Homo sapiens: one gene and its partners. The protein of the gene in region 3 purifies or fractionates together with the protein of the main gene of each other region. This does not show direct contact. Each region holds a gene or a part of one and is shown on either strand. Other genes may lie near its edges.

Region 1 (5,845 bases), on a different chromosome or scaffold from region 3:
ACACCAGTCATATAGAATTAGGGCCAACCTAGCAGCCTCATTTTAATTTAACTATCTCTCTAAAGACCCTATCTCCAATTACAGTCACATTCTGAAGTACTGAGATTAGGGCTTCAATGTATAAATTTTGGGGGACATTATTCAACCTATAACTAGCATAGTTTTTTTTCACATACTTTTACTTTGATATATTTAGGTTTAAGTATTGAGAATTTAAAAACCAAAAGACCTCTATCATGTGCGTGTAGAAACATATCATGTAAAAAGAATCTGTTGTCTATCTAGGCATTATATTTGTTGCATCTTAGGATTTACTGAAAAACTTTTGGAGAACTTTGCCCCTAGGGCAGCAGCTTCTGGCAGAAAAAGGCCAAACCCAGGATTCTAGGGCAGTTAAATTTAGAAACAAAAGCCAAGATTCATTCTATCACTCAATAATCATTTTCTTCAATGGCTGACACACCAAAAGAAGGGTCAAATTTATTTATTTTTAAATTCATTTTAATTTCTGTATCTCTACATAGATATATCTAGAGGGTCTCACTCTGTTGCCCAGGCTGGAATGCAGTGGTGTGATTATAGCTCACTGAAGCCTTGAATTCCTGGGCTCAAGTGATACTCCATTTCAGTCTCCTGAGTAGCCAGGACTACAGGCATGTGCCACCATGCCAAAAAAATCTTCTGTAGAGATGGGGGCGGGGGGGGGGGGTCTCACTATGTTGCCCAGGCTTGTCTTGAATACCTAACCTCTAGCAATCCTCAGGCCCTGGCCTCCCAAAGTTTTGGGATTATAGGCATTAGCCATTGTGCCAGGCAAGTTATTTCCCCAAAAAACACTTTCTTAAGGGATGGTCCCAGTCCGCCAGCATCCGAGTCACCTGGGGTATCTGTCATGGAAGCAGGTCTCTGCATCATACTGCAGATTCAGTGAATTCAGCTCTGGGTCTGGGGAACTGCACTTCAGCAAGCGTCCCACCCACCTGCCCGCTGGAGCCTGTGGGTCTCTTTCCTGAGAACTGTGTGCAGCCATCTATGTACCCACTCATCACCCATGAAAAAGATCACGCTTGTCTGAACAGCAAAACTGAGTATGTTTACTTTACACAAAGTACAATCCAGTATATGCAGAAAGGTACTCAGCATCACACTCGTGATCAATATCCTCTTATTTCCATTTGGTATGTCACTGAAAACCTGGCACACCACTTAGCTAAAAATCACATAAAAGAACCCCTAGAGAAATCAAACTGATGTTTTTTTTCCCCCAAACAATAGATTTCCTCTTCATTAGTCAAATCTGATAGTGATATTCATTAATAAGGAAAACTAAAGTTTTCAAGCATCAACTCTGAATGGCAGAGACCCTAATCTGACTGTTATTAGCCACCAAGAACTCAGAAGAGCAAAGAACTCAAGAAGAGGCAAGCAAGAGCACTATGGAAATTATATTCTTTTCTGTGAAATTCAGTCCCACAGCTATTTGAGCAAGGGCCCAAGACGATGGAGAGGCGGCAAAGCTGCTGGGAGGGCCTGTTCGCAGGCAGGAATGCACTGGCTGTGCCTCGCCCCGCCATGTCCTTCCACAGGTGGGCTCTTCACTGGCTTCACTTCAGCTTGATCCTCTGGTCTCCCCACAGCTTCCTGGGAGACTTTGGGTTGTAATCTTTACAGTTCCAAGAATCAATTTTGGTTGAACGCAAGGGTAACATCCCCATCCAAAACAGAAATGTTCTCATGGTATGAAGGCCATTCTGTAGAGTGCACGTATATATGTTTATATTTATATAGGCTCCTATGCGAGACAGTTTCCTTCCTCTTAGCAAGAGAATACTGCATCCAGCAACACTGCTTTGGCTAGCTCTTTTTTCTGTATGGCCTCATGTGTGTGGCAATTGAAGCAGCTATTTCTCCCTTCCTCTTGTTCTGGCCAAAATAATCTAGAAACTCACCATCTGGTCCAATCAAGTACATTATTATTGTGTGATCCACCTGCAGAGAAAAGGGGGGAGAGTGTGACAAAGATTACCAAAATAAGCTGCTTATTTTACTGAATGTATGCTGCAAGATAAGAGAACTTTACATTAATGCTTAAATAACCTTTACAGCATCTATTATTTATGGAATAGGCTTAAGTCTATCATAGCAAATTCCTAACAAAAATTGTCTAAAATCTTTTGTGTCCTAAACATCTGCACTGGTTATTGCTTGTCACATCAGCTAGAACCTGAAATTCTTTTGGTTTAATCCTTAACATATTTACCCACACACTCTGAGAAAAGAATTCACCTTCTAAGAAATAGCTGCTGCAGGCTTTCATAAAGCAGTCAATGTTTGTGGAATAGCAATGCTTGTTGAAAAATACCTTCATTTTTGAGTAAGATATCTCCTCAGACCCTAAACATGTTACAAACAGACATCACATGGAATTAAGTGTTGGTGAAAAACTGCTTTCTTTAGTAAGTTCTTGGGTTTATTCATGTTTTAGAAAGAACTGGTTGTCATTCATTACTGCCAAAATTCTGCTTACCACGCTTTATGAGAAGAAATCAGAAAACTAATCATTAGTTTAAATAATCTATAAATTTGAACAATATTTAGTTTTAATATTAGTAATTCAAACAGAAACAGGAAAAGAAACATTTTTCTCCCCAAGGAAATTTTTGTCTCCTCCACTGAATAATCCTATCTGAAATCAATCCATCACCTGGAAAGCAAATCCTCGGGAGCATAAATGCTGCCCCCCTAACCAGAGAGTCATCGTAAACTCAGCATCCATTTTCCCAGCAAAGTCCTAAAATGGTCCCAGCTCTAACTTTAACTTAGATTAGTCATCAGATTTTTTAGTTAGACACTTCCATAAAATCCAATTTTAAGTGAGATTTGGCACTTAGAGTCCTTGGAATTTATTGCAGGCTTGACTGCTATTTGGCAAGACAAAGAAAGACAGGAATGTGACTACAAATACCAAACTGGAGACACCTCCCAAACATACCCCAGCACGCACTATATGTCTGTGAGGGTATTATTTTTTATACACACATTCTTAAGATAGCAAATGGAAAGAGCACTTGCCTACCCACATAAGGAAAGAATGTACACCAAAAGAGCGCCAACAACTGGATTCCAAGTGCTGTGGGATAGTTCACCGCAGGAGCAAGACGGGGGGCTACGTTTCTCCACATATTTGATACAGAAATCAGAATTAAGTCTCCAGTTCTCTCTTCAAGCCTTACTCTGTAGCTTACATCACTCTTTCTCCCTATTTCTTCCTTTTCTCTATTCTCTGTTAAAAAAAACAAACTACAGTATGTGGGACTTATTTTCTGAGTGTTCTTAATATAAATTACCTTGTAGTACACAACAAAAATATTATTTTATCTGTATCTGTCGAACTTGTCAGAGGTCACTCCTCAATATTCCTTTGGGTTGTGACAGAGCACATTGACATTTATTCTAATACAGAGGTCTACAGAGGTCTTCCAAGTTCTAGTACTTCCTTGTATAGAAAAAGGACACTAGCATTAACTGACAAATTCTTTCACATGTCATCTTAAGCCATGAAACAGGTATTCTCCTCCTCTTCAAATGATATCACAGGCTGGAGAGAGTAAATTATATAATTGGTAAGTGCCAGGCCTAACTTTAAAACCTAGAATCTGTCCAGTTTCAAAGTCCACAAACTTTTATCACCACGTTGCCTCTAGCTCCAATTCTAATGGAGAGCAGCAACTCAGTTTTTCTAGTGTGCAAGTTACGTTTTAGTGTGAATTATTTTTTGAAAAGGTAATATATGCACATAGAAAACGAATATCCAGTTAATGTATACAATGAAAATGTCCCTCCCCCTCTTCACACCCAGAGTGCCTCAGTTCCCCTTAGAGTGAACCAATGCCATCAGTTCCTTCTGTATCCTTCCGAAGAAATTCTCTGCATCTACTATGTGTATATATCCACTACCACTTATTTTTTTTATACACAAGTAACAATATATTCTACAGTACTTGCTTTCTCATTTAACAATATATTGGACATTGTTCTACGTTAGATTATACACAGTAGTTAAAAAATGGTTACTGGATTTTCAGTTTTTTCTCTTTAAAAACAATGCCATAGGGTATATTTATAGGATAAAGTCCAAAAAGTAGAATCTCTTGCATAAAAAGTATATAACTTTAAATGTGAGAAATACTGTTAAACTGCCCTCTGAAGAGGGTGTATGAGTTTAATTCCTATCAACAATGCATGAGTGTGCCTGCTGTTCCAAATTCACTCCTGCAGTTTATTTCCTGCTTTTCCAATTTCGACAATATATTTTCAGATTTTCTGACCACTGCTGAGCCAAGAGAAAAATGTTACCTCATTATACAATTCACATTTCTTTTATTATGAAACTGCACATTTAGGTTTGAAAGCTATTTGTATTCTTTTTTCAAAAGTATTTTCTAACTAATATCTATATAATAATATAGTATTATATATATATAATACAATAATGTGCAGATCCAGCTTTCTATGGAATTCCAAATATTTGGTATACCCAGTTCGATCACTCTGAAGAGTCCACTCAAAAGCCAGAAGCTTGCCTGTTGTTGCTGTCGTTTGGGATTAAGAAAACTTCATTCCATTACATCTCAACATTAACCTTAAAGGTACCCCCTTACTTCCTGCAGGTCCTTAAATGATAACAGAAGTTTCCCAAACCATCCTATGGATGAAAATCTGTGACCTCAAGGGACTGAAGTCATACTAATGAAAAACCTAAGAAGCTGAAGAATGTCTCCCCCTATTGGATGATTTAGCAAATGTACAGCATGAATTCCTCATCGAATCTCATCAAAAGTCAAATTCTTATGGCAGTAGGCCAGTATTTCTCAAAATGGGGCCAAAGATACATTCTACAAGGTCCAAGAAGTTTCCATAAGACTTACATATTTTTGTTTTCATTTGTAATTAAAAACATTAATATCCATATTCTGGATTATCTGTGTTGTGAGTATAAATTTCAGTGCCCAGGCTTGTGTTTGCTCCATGATCTCACTGGCACCTAGCTGCCCACTGCTGTTACAGGCAGACATGAATATGATACATTCTTGCCAAATCAACACTAACCAGGCAAGGCAGGCTACACGATTAAAGGTTTCAAAGTATTTTAAATAGAAAATGCAGAGGGGCAGTTGAGTAGAGTTGGGTATGTGATAGCAGTCTGACCAAAACCCCCTCCCTTCTTGCCCTGAGCAGCACTTTGGTTTCAGCAAAATCTCTTGTCAATGTAACTGAATGTTTTCAATTTAAGTTTTGCAGGCTGTTTGGGTTTATTTGTACAACTGCTTTCTGATTTGACTTTCTGACTCTGAGTTATGAGTTCTAAGCATCAAGACTATGGAGTGTTACCTAGTTTAGGACTGTATACATTTAAACAATTTAATATAACTCATTTAATGCTGGAAATCAGACTGATGAGCTCATCTATTCCTGCTGTCATCATCGGATAAACTCAAAACCAGTTAATACAACTCTCTATAAAGACAGAAGTCCGGAAAGTCCTTTTCCTATGGTTTCCTCTTTTGGCCACTGTGGCTCTCTGCTCTTCTCTCATTCTGCTAGAGAAGCAGCAAGAGGAAAACAGAGGAGGGTCCCTCTACTTTCCTTACAATTAAGGCTTAAAGAAAAGTGCTCATTTTTCTCATCTTTTACTCCAAGGAATCCAAGTTTCCCTAATTCTACGAGGCACCACATCTGGAAGACAGGATTACTGTGTAGGCTTAATTAAGGCAAACAGGCCAGAACCTTGCTTTTAATTCAGGCTGTAGGCTCCAGGGGCACACACGTTCCAGGTTCAAAGGGA
Region 2 (5,845 bases), on a different chromosome or scaffold from region 3:
CTCAGGAGGCTGAGGTGGGAGAATCATCTGAGCCCAGGAGGTCAAGACTGCAGTGAGCCAGGATCACACCACCGCACTCCAGCCTGGGTGACAGGAGGAGACCCTGTCTTAAGGAAGAAATAAAAAGGGAAAGACAGGAAGAGGAAGAGGAAGAGGAAGGAAAGGAAGGAAGGAAGGAAGGAGCTGTTCCTTCAGGAAGGGCAGACAAGTTGCTCATGCATATACTATTGTTATTCTTGCACATTCTTTTTTTTGAGACAGGTTCTCACTCCTGTCACCCAGGCTGAAGCGCAGTGGCGCAATATTGGCTCACTGCAACCTCCACCTCCCAGGCTCATGTGATCCTCCCACCTCAGCCACCCAACTAGCTGTTGACTGTCAGGTGTGTGCCACCACACCCAGCTGAATTTGTATTTTTTGTAGAGACGAGGTTTCGCCACCAGACTAGTCTTGAACTCCTGGGCTCCAGTATCCACCTACCTTGCCCTCCCAAAGTGCTGGGATCACAGATGTGAGCAAACGTGCCCAGCCTCATTCTTAACAGATAAAACCAACTTCATCAAATTGAAAAACCAAAGAAAATCCCCTAAATTACTATGCTAGGTGCTCCGAAGTTTTTATTTTTCCAACCAACTTTCAAATGGCAAAAGTAATTTAATTATTTACTTAAGTTATTATTTACACCTCCCCATTACAAAACATGGTATGCCTCCTTGTACAGAGTGTGTTAGGTTTATGACCTAAAAGAGGTGGCTAAAAGGTTTGCTATTATGCCACATATACACTGCTCTTGAAAAAGTTTAAGCACAAGCAAAATAAAAACCAACCAGGCAATCGTTTTCCATGTTTGCTCATGATATACACTTCACCGGGTATTTTTTCTCTATTCTAGGCTCATACCCAACAAATACTGTGTTTCACATATTATTTTCAAAATCAGACTAATTCCAAGAAAGAAGGAAAACTGCACTACGTATCACAGAATGCACAAGCAACATGTAAAGGTACCCTTCTAGATATTCTTTTAAAGACAAAATCTGCTCGATCCACCCTACCTTTAACGTCCCCATCAGAAGAACTTATAGGCTACTGAGTTTTTTTTTTTTTGGAGATGGAGGCTCGCTCTGTCACCAGGCTGGAGTGTAATGGCACGATCTTGGCTCACTGCAACCTCTGCCTCCTGGGTTCAAGTGATTCTCCTGCCTCAGCCTCCTGAGTAGCTGGGTCTACAGGCATGCACCACCATGCCCAGCTAATTTTTATATTTTTAGTAGAGACGGGGTTTCACCATGCTGGCCAGGATGGTCTCAATCTCTTGACCTTGTGATCCGCCCACCTTGGCCTCCCAAAATGCTGGGATTATAGGAGTAAGCCACCACGCCTGGCCGACTACTGAGTTCTTTAAAAAACAGTAGGGACTATGTTTACACCCTTTGCCATGTATAATATTGTTTAATGATTTGTGATCCAAAGTTCGGTACCTACTGAATTCTACAATATGGTCAGGTTGATTGGTGGTATTTTGCTACAATTGCCACTGTAGTTTAAGGGGCTAAGAAATAAAACTATTCATTGAAAAGAAGTGTTTGAAATATCAGGCGAGTAAGTGAACGATTTACCCTTTTGCTTTTCCCAGCTCCTAAACCTTTTTGGAAGTTTACCCTTGGTTCTATAGGAATTTGACAGGTATTAAGAGGCAGAAAGGCCCTCATTCTCAGCTGCAGTTGGGCTGCAAGATGACACACTTCACTTTCTTGCCCTTTAACTGGCACCACTGTGAATGATACTTGTCATTAAAATCCCATTCATCCAACTCACCTTGTTCCTTAGCAACCTCAGGTAAATATGTGGCTGTGCGTTTGACACCTTTTTCATTAATGAATTCAATTCGAATCCCATGGACCCCTACCTATAGAAAAAAGTACAACCAAGTAAATGGCATTTACTTACTCTAATGGAACTTCAGTCCCCACATATAAATCAACATTGTTCCCTGACCAGCTTAACACAGGCCTGGAAAAGGGAGACCTTCTCGCATTTCATGACTAATTCTATCTCAGGAGGTATAGAGGCCAAAGAAAGTTCTGCTTTTAGGGAAGGGTCGAGAGTATGTGCAGCCAACTCTGAGAATATGAAGGTAGGAGAAATGCATTCTTTAAGTAATTCATCCAGGAATTGTGAATATGTTCCTTGACCCTATTCCATTAAATAAACATGCCACAAGGTTTTTATCTGGGGTCATGATCCTTCACATCTGATTCCTAATAAAAACTTTTATTTGGCCAGGCGCGGTGGCTCATGCCTGTAATCCCAACAATTTGGGAGGCCAAGGCCGTCAGGAGTTTGAGACCAGGCTGGCCAACATGGTGAAACCCTGTCTCTACTAAAAAAATACAAATGGCTGGGCATGGTGGCTCACGCCTATAATCCCAGCACTTTGGGAGTCCAAGGCAGGTGGATCACGAGGTCAAGAGATTGAGACCATCCTGGCTAACACGGTGAAACCCCATCTCTACTAAAAATACAAAAATTAGCTGGGTGTGGTGGCACGCGACTGTAGTCCCAGCTACTCAGGAAGCTGAGGCAGAAGAATCACTTGAACCCAGGGGTGGAGGTTGCAGTGAGCTGAGATTGCACCACTGCACTCCAGCCTGGCGACAGAGCGAGACTCTGTCTCAAAAAAAAAAAAAATAGCTGGGCATGGTGGTGGGCACCTGTAATCCCAGCTACTTGGGACACTGAGGCAGGAGAATCCCTTGAACTCGGGAGGCAGAGGTTGCAGTAAGCCGAGATCACGTCACTGCACTCCAGCCTGGGGAACAAGAACGAAATTCCATCTCAAAAAAAAAAACAAGCAAACAAAAACTTTTACTCCAGGGCTTGCCAAGAAGGATCTGGAATATTTTCTTTTACCCCATTATCTCTTATTAGACATGGGAGAAGGATGTAAACCAAGCAGACTAGGGAGAATCAGGAGAAGCGAGCCTTTCCACTGACACTTCTGCCTACTCCTGGTATAGCAGCACCTCTTCTGTCACCTATGTTGCCCACAATTGGTTCCAAACTCAGCCTTCACATTCTTATACCCTTTCTCTCAATGAAGGAGATACATTGCCATGTACTAACCCGAACCCAAATGCAACGAGAGATGCAGAGTTCCAAATGCGGCTGTTCTCACCTCCCAGTCCAGGTAATCACTGGCATCCTCAAAGTTAGTAAGGAGGGAGACAGAGCAGAAAAGTTTAGGCAGCTCCTCTCGGGTCAGGGGGGGAAATCGGCTGTCCTTAAGTGCACTGGAGGGGGACAGAAAACATAGGTAAGGCTGCTCTGGAGTCAGGAGCCAATATCAGGTGCCATAGAGCCCACATATTTATGAATCTTGAGCTATGCAGAGAGTATCTATTGTTCATCAACACTAACATGTTAAAAACAACTCGATGCTATTAACTGTCTGTACTTGAACTGATAACTGACTCACCAGATTAAGCCCCTTACATTTCCTGATTACCAAAAAGAGAAAGCTCAACGTACATCACTTAGAAGAAATAAAGTCAGGCAGCTATTTCTGATTCTAGCCAATTTATCTACAGTTCTTAATGTCTGGTGTCATTACCTGGTTAACGTGTATTCCCTGAGTCCTGAATGAAGATTCATGGCTGAGAAGGTCCCAATGCAGCCACGAAGCCGCTTGTCCCGCCCTGTCTTCCACGTCACAAAGAGCGGACTAAAAAAAGCAAAACACAAAACATTCTCCAGCCCCAAATTAATCATGGATAAGAACAAAACCTTTTGGCTTTGTCCCTATTCATTTCTGTTATTGCCAAAAATCCCTGTTTTTGGACTTGCCAGCTACCCGAAGGACTCTCTGCCTTTCTGAAAACGGCACAGCCCCTGGCTGGAAACGGGAAACCTACAAGGCAGCATAAGGAAAGGCTCCGTGTAGTGGTTCCCATGTTCCATGCTGACAGCTTTAATTCACTTTGCCGCCAAATTTACATGCTACTTTCCTCTTTCTCTGCCCAAGACTCAACTTTTCCTTCGAATTCTCCAGTTTCCTCTTCCCTAAGTCTATTTATCCAGGTAGCCATGCTCCCCCGCTCCGTCTTTCATGATGACACGCCTCACCTGCACAGCCCCGTTCATCTGCAAACCCATGTTGCTTCCATGATCATGTCTGCCCCTGACAACTACAAATATTTCCACTCACAAATTTTCAGAAAAAAAAGTTCCCTCAAAAAACATTTTTTAATTTTTAAAAAAAGATTTAAAAAGGCCGGGTGCAGTGGCTCATGCCTGTAATCCCAGCACTTTGGGAGGCCAAGGTGGGCGGATCACTTGAGGTAAGGAGTTCTAGACCAGCCTGGTCATCATGGCGAAACCCCGCCTCTACTAGAAATATAAAAATTGGCTGGGCGTGGTGGCAGGCTCCTGTAATCTCAGCTACTCGGGAGGCTGAGGTGGGAGAATCACTTGATCCTGAAAGGCAGAGGTTGCAGTGAACCGAGATTGTGCCACTGCACTCCAGCCTCGACAAGACTGAGACTCTGTCTCAAAAAGAAAAAAAAAAAAAAAGATTAAAAAAAAATAGAGGGGGGCCTCACTATGTTGCCCAGGCTAATCTTGAACTCCTGGGCTCAAGCGATCCTCCCACCTCAGCCTCCCGAAGTGCTGAGAGATTACAGATTACAGGCATGAGCCACCGCGCCCAGCCAAGGAACCTTTTTATTAGCTGAGTTGCCATTTTCTGTTTCTAGGCCAAAGTCACACTTCATTAAGGCTATATCAGATTGACAGTGACAGATTTTTTAGCAAGAGGTTTCAAGGCCTGTTCCCTCTTCCTGAAATCCCTCCACACTCTAATGTCCTTACCTCTTAGATTGAGTTAATCATTTCTAGAGGCAACTTAAGTTTTCAAAGTTATCTGCTTTGATCACTGTCACAAAGGTCCCCACAGCAGCTGTCCCATCTAGCCATCTTTTCCTCCCAATAAAGCACCTGCACAGCACCAGCCAAAGCTGCAGCCCCAAAGCCTACTGAAAAATCCTTCAAGACAAGGCCTCCATTGCCTGCAGGATGGAAATGCAAAGCCTTGAATACAACAGTCTAAACCTTCCCTAAACACCCACATCATCACCTGTTCTTCCAAACTGCATCTCTCTCTTACGTGGGGCACCCTGGATCTCACTCAGGCTTGGGATCTCCACCTGCTCAGTCAGGTGTTTTCTAACCATGTTACCCCAGGGTGACGGTTCCCAAAAAACCGAGCACACTTCCCTCCAGGTTTCCTCTCCTCTGACACACTCACAGAGAACAACTTCCCCTTAGCTCTGTGCGTGTGTGATTTGCCAACCTGACAGGCCTCCCAAGGGAAGAGGCTCCTTTTCTTCACACCCTCTCCATGCCCCAGCCAAGGTTTTGTAGTCTCCGTATGGCAATCAACAACTGAGGAATGAATAATCTCATATCAATGAACACTCCAAAAGCATACCCCCAAAACAAAAATAAAAAAACAGCAATGCTCTTCAAAGCCAGCTCAGAGCGGCTTCCAATTCTGAGGAAGAAGAAAATGCTAGCATGGAATTCTTCAGTTTACTTTATACATATTGCTTATTTAAGTCACTGAGACCAGTAGAGGGCTTGGGACAAGCAACAAAGAATCTTGAACTAAAAATACTGAAGCAGATTCTGACTTCTTGATGGGATGTGAGTGGCCCTACAGGTTTACCAAGGGATTTCTCATGAACAAAGTGAGGGGACCCCTGTTAACCAAATCGCAGATCCCAGTGAATGAGAGCTCCTAGTCTCCAGCCTGGCCCTCAGACTTCCAACTCACCTGGACTTCAAC
Region 3 (5,845 bases):
TACTGAAGTATTTGTGGGTAAAGTGCCACCATGTCTGCAACTTACTTTTAAATGGTTCAAAAAAAAATGTTTAGTATTATTTATAAACAGAAAGACAGGCTGGGCACAGTGGCTCACGCCTGTAATCCCAACACTTTGGGAGGTCAAGGCAGGCAGATTGCTTGAGGCCAGGAGTTCGAGACCAGCCGGCCAACGTGGTGAAACGCCATCTCTACTAAAAAAAATACAAAAATTAGCTGGGCATGGTGTTGCACACTTGTGATTTCAGCTACTCAGGAGACTGAGGCAAGAGAATCGCTTGAACCCAGGAGGTGGAGGTTGCAGTGAGCCGAGATTGTGCCACTGCACCCCAGGCTGGTTGACAGAGCGAGACTCCATGTCAAAAAAAAAAAAAAAAAAAGAGAGAGAGAGAGACAAAGGACAAGTGACAAAATGTTACTCCTGCTGAATCTAGGGGACATTCATAGTCCTTTCAACTGCTGTGTAAGTTTTAAATTTTTCAAAAAAAAAAAAAGGGGGCAAAGGGAATTAAAAATAAAAGACCCAGTGCTAGAGAGACAGGGAGTAGGGGGTGTCAATGGAAGAGTGGGCAGGCTGGGAGGGGAGGGACTGTGCCAGAAAATACAGTGAGATCCAAGCCCCCTGCCAGGGCCTGGAGTGCACACCCACCTTTCCTTCCCTGTCCCTTTAGGCACTGTTCAAATCCTTCCTACTCCAAGAAACCTTCCCAACTCCCCACTTCACAGCCCCCGCTGTATTTGACTCCCACCATATCCCACTATACATGCAACACCTCCTGCCTCACACCCATCAGCAAGGGCCGTGTTCCTGTGCGTGTGGCACAGGAACCAACCAGAAGCCTCTCCATCCCAGGCAGGGACCAGATCCCTGCCTGACCTACTTTCTGTCTCTAGCAGAGTTAGCACAGCACTGTGCGACAGCAGGTACCCAAGACAGACCTGGAGCAAGAACTTTCTGTCCCTCCCATGCCGTCAAGTCTACTAAGCGGGATGACAGTCAGTATTTCTCATCATCACAACACACTACTTCTGTTCCGCATGGTGGGCCATGGTAAGCACCATAATAAGAATCCAGTCAATGCCACAGAGCTCACTGCTGGTGTGTTCGTGTCTTTGGGAAGGCAACAATCACTGCCATCCTGTCTACATGCAGCCACCCACAGCTCCCAGCATAAAAGAAACACTCCACAAATGGTGAATGGCTGAATGAATGAATACCTATTCCATTTTCAAACACATGTCATAAGTGATAAAAACTAAGATAAATGAAAGTGTAAAATCTGCACAGGCATGCAAACACCAAATAAGCGTTATCTACCAGGCTTAATTAAATTTTAAAGGTCTTTTCCAATTAGTGAACTCAAAAGCTTTTGCGTTCTAGCACAGAGGTCCCCAACCCCTGGGGCGGTACTGACCCATGGCTTGTTAGGAACCAGGTTGCACAGCAGGAGGTGAACAGTGAGTGAGCATTACCAGCTGAGCTCTGCCTCCTGTCAAATCAATGGTGACATTAGATTCTCACAGGAGTGCAAACCCTGTTGTGAACTGCGCATGTGAGGGATCTAAGTTGCATGCTCCTCATGAGAATCTAACTAATGCCTGATGATCTGACGTGGAACAGTTTCATCCTAAAACCATCCCCCGCCTCCTGCTCCCATCTGTGGAAAAATCGTCTTCCACAAAACTGATCCCTAGTGCCAAAAAGGTTGGGGACCACTGTCCTAGCATCTTAAAATGTAAAGTTTCCTATTTTCTCATGGCTGTGGCCTTAGAGCAGACCTAAAGGATATATCACACTCACTAAAACAGTGTCATTGGGCCAGGGCAAAAGTAGAGGCCACATGCCTGAACACTATTGACAAGGTACTATGGAATTAATATTTGTGTCCCTCCAACAAAATTCCCATTTTGAAGCCTAACCTCCAATGTGAGGATATTAGGAGGTGGGCCTTTGGGAGGTGCTTAGGTTGTGAGGGTAGAGCCTTCATGAATGGGGTTGGCGTCCTTATAAGAAGAGAAAGAGACCGAGCACTCTCTCAGTCATGTGAAGTTACAGCAAGAAGGCAGCTGTCTGCAAACCAGAAATCGAGCCCTCACCAGGCACTAGATCTGCCAGCGCCTTGGTCTTAGACTTCCCAACCTCCAGAACTGTGAGAATTAAATGTCTATTGTTTAAGCCCTCCAGCCTATGGTATTTTTGTGACAGCAGCTCAAATTAAGACATAAGGGATGGGGGAAGGGACCATGAGAAGCTTGAAAATGCTCCTCAAATGATTCTGATACACACTCCAGAGATGCACTGAGCTCTGAAAGCTGAGGGAGGATGAAAGCAGCAATGCTGACCCTGAACAAAGGAGGAACAAAGGGACCCTGATGGATTCCATCAGCCTGGGATGGGTGCATAAGACACAGTGTTACCATATGCCAGGCACTGCTGGGAAGATAGCCCACTATATCATATTTATTCTCGTGTAACATAGAACGTACCCAGAGTCACCAATGCTGAACATACTTTCCACAAATGGTTCAATTTAGTAGAGGAATCAGTTGTGCCAAGAAATAAATGCTGTGGCTAGCCACTCAACCCTCCCCACCATCCCCCTTCCCCAAGAAATGCCAGTCTCGGGAGAAAAAATAGTAAGTTACTAGAATCTCAGACTTGGAAAGCAAATGTGATCATTACCTAGCCCAACCCACTATCCTATGCATTACTTCCTTCCACAATAACACTAACAAATTCTTATCACCTTATTGGATACTCTGTCATACAGTGCTCATAGCAACTCATGTGAGGTTGCACAGTTCTGATGATCTGCCTTACTGTGAGTATAAATCTGTTCTACTCTTGCGTCCTAGTGTCCCTGGGGAGACAAGAGGCCTTCCATGCGAAGGCCCTGGACATAGGTGAAGTACCCATTACCCAGATGTCTCACCAAATCCCAGGTATTTGACTGCTCTTTAATGAGCCACCATATACATTCCAACAAAGATCACAAGATGCTTCAACAAGCTCCTTACCAGAAGCAGGGAAGCCATCGGCTCTTTTAACTGATCACTCAGCTATTGAGGAAGTGGTAGGAATTTCTAAATTGTTGTCAAGACAACCAAAGTCCAAATATAAATCTCTTTGGGATTCCATCAGGAAGCAGTTTTTAAGTGCACGCAGTTTTTAAGTGCACGCACACAAATACCCCAAGGAGATAACAAAACAAAGGTCCCCTCCTTCTCTTTCTCCTCCTCCCCACTCTCTCCCTTCCTCCTGCTTCTTGCCACATGGTGATGTGTGTTAAAAATGCATACTGGGAAACTTTTCCACCTTTGGGGTTGAAGCAGCTGCTGCCTCAGTGTTGTTTTTGTTAAGTATTTTTTGTTGTTGTTGTTAACATACTTTGTTGCCTTTAAGCTTCATGTTTCATAATACCAGTTCAGATCACAAAGTGGGACGAATGACACTTTCCTGGTAAGAAGGAAACTCATGGGGTCCTGCCCAGGGTGCTTCCCCCTATCAAGCACACCCTCCTGCACGGCTGACTTCCACAGGTGACTCGGCTCAGGCCAGGAAAGGGCGTTCACAAAGGCTTGCTGGGCTGTCCCCATGTGGAATAAACCCAAGAAAGTCCACACATGAAATGTGAGCCAAGAATTTATAACAGGTAACCTAAACAAACCCAACGCTCTTCAGTCCTTGGTTTTCCAAGAACACAAAGCATTCAGAGAATGTTCCACAGGCCATTATCCATCCCATGTGGGAGCATTCACCAATAGAAATAAGCTTGGACATTCCTAATGTGCCAGGAAGACAGGAGAGGTTCAGGTAAAGAAGACCTGGCACCCGGCCCACTTTCACTCCCACCTGCTGCAAATGACTCTAACGTCAGGAGGTAAGACCTCCGACCCCATGGATGGAGCAGGAAACTACAGCAAAGAGTGACCAGCAGGGAGCCTGTGCTGAAAGCGCCTACTGCCCATGCCTAAAACAACCTATACCTTAAATGCGAAGCATGTCCCCAAGTCCCCACTGAGCACAGTACCAGGCACAAAAAGACCAACCCCTCAGCCTTCCCAGTGAGAGTGATATTTTGTTATGAAGTCTATGTTCTCTATCACCTTATAAGGGAAACCCGACAGAAAGTGATTCTAACAGGCAGAAAGAAGGTGTGGCTGTCAGGGTCTTGGTCATAGCAAGACTTCAGGGAGGTGTCTCATGGCTAAAAAACAGGAAGCTGAATGCCAGCCACACACAAAACTTCACCCAGAAAAGACAGACCTCCCTACGCAAAGCACAAATGAGCCCAAGGTTCCTGTTAAAATGTTGAAAGAGCCTGGGCAACATAGGGAGACCCCATCTCTACAAAAATAATAAAAAGTATTAGCTGGGCTGGGTGGTACACACCTGTGGTCCCAGCTACTTGGCAGGCTGAGGTGGGAGGATCACCTGAGCTTGGGAGGCTGAGGCTGCAGTGAGCCAGGATGGCACCATTGCACTCCAGCCTGGGTGACAGAGTGAGACCCTATCTCAAAAATATACATATATTTTTTAAAGGACTTTTGGACTTAGCACTGACTGATCCACAGGGTCTCTCGAATCAAGAGAATAAACCTAGGCTGATGCAGAAGGATCCACTGAGCCCAGGAGTTGGAGGGTGCAGTGAGCTATGATGGCACCACTGCACTCCAGCCTGGATGACAGAATGTGACCTTGTCTCAAAACAAAAAAGAGGAGAGAGAGAGAGAGAGAAGAGAGTAAACCGAAGACAGTCAAATGGTTTTGATCTCCCTCAATGTTATCCCACCCAGAGAATCAGCCTAATTGGATGAGCAGCTAGAAACACAGCCTGCTGCACACATCTCACCCAGGAAAGAGCCAGCCAAACGAGGGGATGTGGCAAATCTTACTCAGTGTGGACAACAAGGTCATTTGGTCTTTCAAATAAAATGTCCTCTGATTTCAATAAAACTGAAACTTACAGCCACCCTCAAAAAAAAAAAAAGGAAGCCACAAATGTGGTGTGATATGACTGATGTTTCTTTTCTTTTGTTTTCTTTTCTTTGAGATAGAGTCTCACTCTGTCGCCCGGACTGGAGTGCAGTGGCGTGATTTCGGCTCACTGCAACCTCCACCTCCCAGGCTCAAGCGATTCTCCTGCCTCAGCCTCCCGAGTAGCTGGGATTACAAGCATGCGCCGCTACCGCCCAGCTAACTTTTTTTTGTATTTTTAATAGAGACGGGGTTTGACCATGTTGGCCAGGCTGGTCTTGAACTCCTGACCTCAAATGATCCCCCCGCCTCAGCCTCCCAAAGTGCTGGGATGACAGGTGTGAGCCAACGCGACCGGCCACGATTGATGTTTCAAAGCCTCCGTCTGCCCAGAAACCTCTTCTTTCTCTGCTTTGGCATGGTTCTTCCAACTCCAAGTTCAAATTCCTACACACAGAACTGGCAAAGGTAAGGCACTGTCTGCAGGAAGCCACTCAAAGAGTGTGTATCTTTCTTGGAGATAAAAGAAGTAAAGAGATTTCCTCCAGCTTCCTCCTCTCCCAGGTTTGCTAATTGGCACCCTGAACTCATAGATTAGCAGGAAATGGTAACATGTATCTTAAGAGATCATCTGGTGTAGTCCTCTGCCTAAAGGGGGAACATGTTATTATGCCCATTTCATAGATGAGGCCACTGAGTTGCTTTGCTAAAACGACACAGCTCTTTGGTGGGAAAGAACGAGAGCCTAGGTTTCCTGCCTCTTGACACAGGGTTCTTGCCACCTGATCAGTGTCCTGGTAGGAGGACATAGAGACCTGTCCCTAAACACCGAAACTGAAAATAAGGG
Region 4 (5,159 bases), on a different chromosome or scaffold from region 3:
CACGTATCTCCCTTCCTGGGAGAAGACGAGTTTGGGATGAGCTGTGTCTTCAGCTAGGTTTACAGCCACTGTGGAGAAAATGAGAGCTAAGTAGTGCAGCAGCTTATCATCAACCCTTCCCCAGAAATGCCCATCTTTTCCAGCATCAGTTTCATCTTTCTCCTCCTAACAAACACTCATGACTCCACTGCTGCCCAACTGATCCTCAGCCAGGCCTAGCAGGCCACAGCATGGCCTTTAGCAACCTGAAGTCCTCATTTCCCTTCTGCTCTAAAAGACTAAGCCCTAGACCAGGCGCAGTGACTCATGCCTGTAATCCCAGCACTTTGGGAGGCTGAGGCAGGGAGATCACTGGAGGTCACGAGAGTGAGACCAGCCTGGCCAACATGGCGAAACCCCGTCTCTACTGAAAATACCAAAAAACAAACAAACAAAAAAACTGGCCCGGCATGATGGTGGGCACCTGTAATCCCAGTTACTGGGGAGGCTGAGGCAGAAGAATCACTTAAACCCAGAAGGCGGAGGTTGTAGTGACCCGAGATCGTGCCACTGCACTCCAGCCTGGGTGACAGAGCAAGATTCTATCTTTAAAAAAAAAAAGACTAACCTCTAGAAACTGGGGATCTAATTATTTCATGCCCCAAGTTTTCACAAACAGCCTAAAATTTGGAGAGATATTAACAAATTCTCACGTTGAATCAAAACTAGAACCAAGGCTGCCGACTAGCTGGTTCTTTGGCTAGATACACACAGGTGTCACATAGGACAGAATAATGAGGTCTCTTTTCACGGGTTCCAGTTGTTTATGGGGCATCTCCACAAATCTCCCCACAGATCATTCAAAACTGAACTAATTATCTTACTTACACCCCCTTCTATACTCTCGGGACTAATCCACTTCATATGCAGACATCTTGCCTTCTATGTTCTCTAAGGTGTCAGAGTCCCCTCCACCTGAACACTCATGCTTTTAAATCTTTATTTTCGACTCTTTCCTCTAACCTTCAATAGCTAGTTAGTCACCAAGTCCTACCAATTCTACCTCTGAAATTTGTCACTCAGGTTCTTTTCCTCCCCTCCACTCCCATTGCCACTGCCTTTACTCCAATCTCCAGTGTCACTCAATGTGTTAATAATGTCCTCCCTGGCCTCCCTGACTCCAAATTCCCTTCCCTCTAACTCTCCATGTCTCTTGAGTTTGAGGACTTTTTTTAAAAAAAATCAGGAATGTATGCTAGAGTTTGACAAATGCTTTTCCTGCTTCCACTGAGACAATCACATGGTTTTCCTTTTTTTTTTTTTTTTACTTTAGTGATATAAACTACATCGATTTTCAAATATTAAACCAACTATGCTCTTCTGGGATAAATCTCACATATTGTGATTATTATACATTATCCTTTTTGTATACCAAAGGATATATAAATTGGTTGTGATTATTACATATTATCCTTTTAATATATTGTTGGATTCAATTTGCTAAAGTTTTCTGAGAATTTAGGTATCTATGTTCATGAGAGACATTGATGTATAATTCTTTTCTCTTGTGACGTCTTTGTCTGATTTTGGCATCATGGTAATACAGGCCTCACAGAAAGAATTGGGAAATATTCCCTCTTCATCAATTTTCAATAGGAGTTCTTGAAGAATTGGCATTTATTTCTTAAATGTTTGGTGAAATGTTTCACCAAGAAAATCATCTGGGGACCAGGCGCGGTGGCTCATGCCTGTAATCCCAATGCTTTGGGAGGCCAAGGCAGTGGATTACGAGGTCAGGAGTTCAAGACCAGCCTGACCAACATGGTGAAACCCCATCTCTACTAAAAAAAAATACAAAAATTAGCCAGGCATGGTGGCGCGCACCTGCAGTCCCAGCTACTTGGGAGGCTGAGGCAGGAGAATCACTTGAACCTGGGAGGTGGAGGTTGCAGTAAGCTGAGATTGCACCACTGCGCCCCAGCCTAGGCAACAGACCAAGACTCCATCCCCCCCCCAAAAAAAAAAAGAAAAGAAAAGAAAGAAAAGAAACAAAACGAAAGCCATTTGGAAGGTTTCTAATAGCAATTTCTTTCATAGAAATAAGATTATTCCAGTTATCTCTATCTTCATGAGTCAGCTTTTGTAATTTGTGTCTTTTAAGGACTTCATCCATTTCATCTATATTGTCAAGTTTATTGGCAAAAAGTTGCTCTTAATATTCTATTATCCTTTTAATATCTGCAGAATCTGTAATGATGTCACCTTTCTCATTTCTGACATTAGTAATGTGTGTTTTCTTTTTTTCTGATCATTTTGATTAAAGGTGTGTCAATTTTACTGAAATTCTCAAAGGACCAGCTTTTGGTTTCATTGGTTTCTGTTGGCTTTCTGTATTTCACTGCAATGATTTCTGCTCTGATTTTTATTATTTCCATTCTTCTGTTTACTTTGGGCTTTACTTGCTCCTCTTTCTCTAGTGTCTTAAGGTGGAAGCTGAGGTCAGTGATTTGAGAAGTTTCTTCTTTCCAATATAGCACTATACACTTTTCTTTAAGTTTTGCTTTAGGTGCATCCCACAAATTCTGGTATATTGTCTTTTCCTTTTCATTCCATTCAAACTACTTCCTAATTTGCCTTTTGATTTCTTCTTTAATTCAAGGGTTACTAAAAAGTCTATTATTTAGATTCTTGATATTTAGGGGGGTTTCTAAGGATATTTTGATACTGATTTCTATCAATTCCATTGTGATCAGAGAACATACTCTGAATGATCGGAATCCTTTGAATTTGACACTTGCTTTACAGCCAGCTTAGTCTATCTTGGAAAATGTTTCACGTACACTGAAAAAAATATGTAGTATATAGCTGTTGGGTAGAGTGTTCTATAAATAATGGGATCAAGTTGATTGATAATATTATTCAAGTCTACTATATCCCTGCTGATTTATTGCCTAATTATTCTAAAAATTATTAAAAGGTACTGAAAACTGCAAACGTAATTGTGAATTTGTGTATTTCTTCTTGCAGCTCTATTAGTTTTTGCTTAATATGTTTGAAGCACTGTTAAGTGCAGAAATGTTTAGAACTTACATTCTCTTGACGAACTGACCACTTTATCATTAGGATATAACATTCTTTATCTCTGGTAATATCCTTTGCTCAGAAATCTACTTTGATACTAATATACCCACTCCAGATCTATTAACATATCTTTTTCCATTCTTTTGCTTTAAACGTATATGGTTCTTCATATTTAATGTGTTTCTTTTCCAGTAAAAAATTGGGTCTTATTTTTTTTTTTTAGCCAATCCAACCAACTTCTGCCTTTTGATTAGCGCATGCAGACCATTTATAGTTAATGTGATTATTAGTATGATTAGATTTGTGTCTATTATTTTGCTGTTTTCTATTTGTCCTATATGTTTTCTTCTTTTTCTGCCTTATTTTTTATTAATCTTTTTTTATAATTCCACTTTATTTCCTTTTATTGACTAGCTACATCTCTTTTATTTTAGTGGTTTAAGGTTTATGGTATCGTATGGCAGATGCACCTGACAGCAATAACTCAAGCATACCCTAACAATGACCCTATGGTCCAAGTAGAATGTGGGTTCACACTTCCAAGCTAAGAAATGTGGGAGTGGCCAACTCAGAGATCTGCTCCTTTTCTAGGAAGGACATCTGAACATCTGAACCTCTGGCCCATTCTTGGAATGCAGGCTGTACAGAGGATCAAGGCCCTTTGATTCGGGTTAAATGGAGGTTGTTAGGAGCAGGTTGCTAAGTGAAAATGCTATATAATCTGCATGCTTTTTACAAACAGTAGCAACTGGTTTTCGTGTCCAGCCCACTGCTCCTGGACCACCCAGCATATAAGTCCTCAATAAATCCTATGTCTCATTCACCGGCTCCAGGTTTCTTCCACCTCTCAGACACAGTGCCATCCGTACTGAAATCAATAGGGGTCTAGCACAACAATTAGCCCAGCAGGAGGTTGGAGAAAATTCCACGAGTGCCAAGACAATGGGATCAGGGGAGAATCCACGGTGGAAATCCTGGGCTGGTTGTCCACATGTATGTGGGGCCCAATAGCCACTATCCTTGATGGGTGGGGCCCACCAGGTGAGTATGGGGATACCCCCAAAATGCCAAAAGTTCTGGAAGAACTGCTGCAGGGGGTGGATCCAACTAAGGGAAAGTCAAATGCCCAAGCTGTGGCAGCTGCAGTTGGCCGGCCAGTCCTGACTGTGCTTAGAGCAGCCCCCAAGGTTGAGCTTGTGGCACAGGCAAGGGTGTACCACTTACAAGATGAGCTGCAACTAGGGAGATATTAGCTCAGGCTAATTTCTGTCCCACCTGTGGGAACAGGATGACAAAATGGAGACACTGGTTTGTTGCATAGCCTGTTTGAAGGGTCACTGACTGCCACATGGAGTTAGGACTATCATGACTAAATTGTCCTGGAACCCTAAGTCCTGGGACCCCGTGAAGAGATCTAGTGGCAGGGAGGATGAGGACTGGGATGAGTCCATAGAGGTTCCCATCCTCTCAGCATGTCTGATGGTCACTACCAAGATAAAAGAAGACCAACCACACCCACAGAGGGTAGCCCTACAAGACTTGCCTCCACCTGAAAGAAGGCAGACCACCACAATGCAGGATTATACCGCTGTGGAAATGGTGAAGCTGGGAAGTAAGTTCAAACAGAGTGGGAGACAGTCGATCCCACCCTCCCTGGGATTTTACACTCTCCCACTTAGTAGAAATGGATTTTGAATGTTCCCGATGCAGATAATGATAAATGTTTGAGGTGATGAATATGCTAATTACCCTGATTTTATCATTATGCACTGTATACATGTATTGAAACATCACACTGTACCTCATAAATATGTAAAATTATTATGTAGCAACTAAAAAAAAGAACAAAAGATTTCTCAAGTCGGTTCTTGCACTCCATGGGGGAAAGGCCTAGAAAAGAATATACAGGTCACACCTATTTTACATCCTACTCCCCAACCCCCTGTATTTCCAAAATAATGAATCCCAGTCTTCCTTGTGCAAGGGGACAATCATCCTCTTATAGAACATTATAATACCCCCCACTGTCTTACTCTGGCCACTTGCAAAGCATTGCAAAGGGCCCAATCCACTTTGTATTATAAACCAGGCGCCAGGCC

The links.
Region 1: the proteins of RAB31 (region 3) and SCO1 purify together in Homo sapiens (co-immunoprecipitation; one large-scale study listed by IntAct). This does not show direct contact.
Region 2: the proteins of RAB31 (region 3) and AMMECR1L purify together in Homo sapiens (affinity purification with mass spectrometry; one large-scale study listed by BioGRID and IntAct). This does not show direct contact.
Region 4: the proteins of RAB31 (region 3) and TRIM4 purify together in Homo sapiens (affinity purification with mass spectrometry; 4 studies listed by BioGRID and IntAct, with this or other methods). This does not show direct contact.

Annotation. Positions count from the first base shown.
Region 1 is NC_000017.11:10,679,265-10,685,109, forward strand, and holds part of SCO1 (protein SCO1 homolog, mitochondrial), read right to left. Parts: intron 1,990-5,845; coding exon 1,855-1,989; 3' UTR 1-1,854. UniProt on the Homo sapiens protein: Copper metallochaperone essential for the maturation of cytochrome c oxidase subunit II (MT-CO2/COX2). Not required for the synthesis of MT-CO2/COX2 but plays a crucial role in stabilizing MT-CO2/COX2 during its subsequent maturation.
Region 2 is NC_000002.12:127,867,636-127,873,480, forward strand, and holds part of AMMECR1L (AMMECR1-like protein), read right to left. Parts: intron 3,725-5,845; coding exon 3,614-3,724; intron 3,294-3,613; coding exon 3,179-3,293; coding exon of another isoform or gene 3,127-3,178; intron 1,910-3,126; coding exon 1,819-1,909; intron 1-1,818.
Region 3 is NC_000018.10:9,710,084-9,715,928, reverse strand, and holds part of RAB31 (ras-related protein Rab-31), read right to left. Parts: intron 1-5,845. UniProt on the Homo sapiens protein: The small GTPases Rab are key regulators of intracellular membrane trafficking, from the formation of transport vesicles to their fusion with membranes.
Region 4 is NC_000007.14:99,892,679-99,897,837, forward strand, and holds part of TRIM4 (E3 ubiquitin-protein ligase TRIM4), read right to left. Parts: intron 69-5,159; coding exon 1-68. UniProt on the Homo sapiens protein: E3 ubiquitin-protein ligase. Mediates 'Lys-63'-linked polyubiquitination of the innate immune receptor RIGI, this linkage doesn't lead to proteasomal degradation but seems to enhance IFN induction.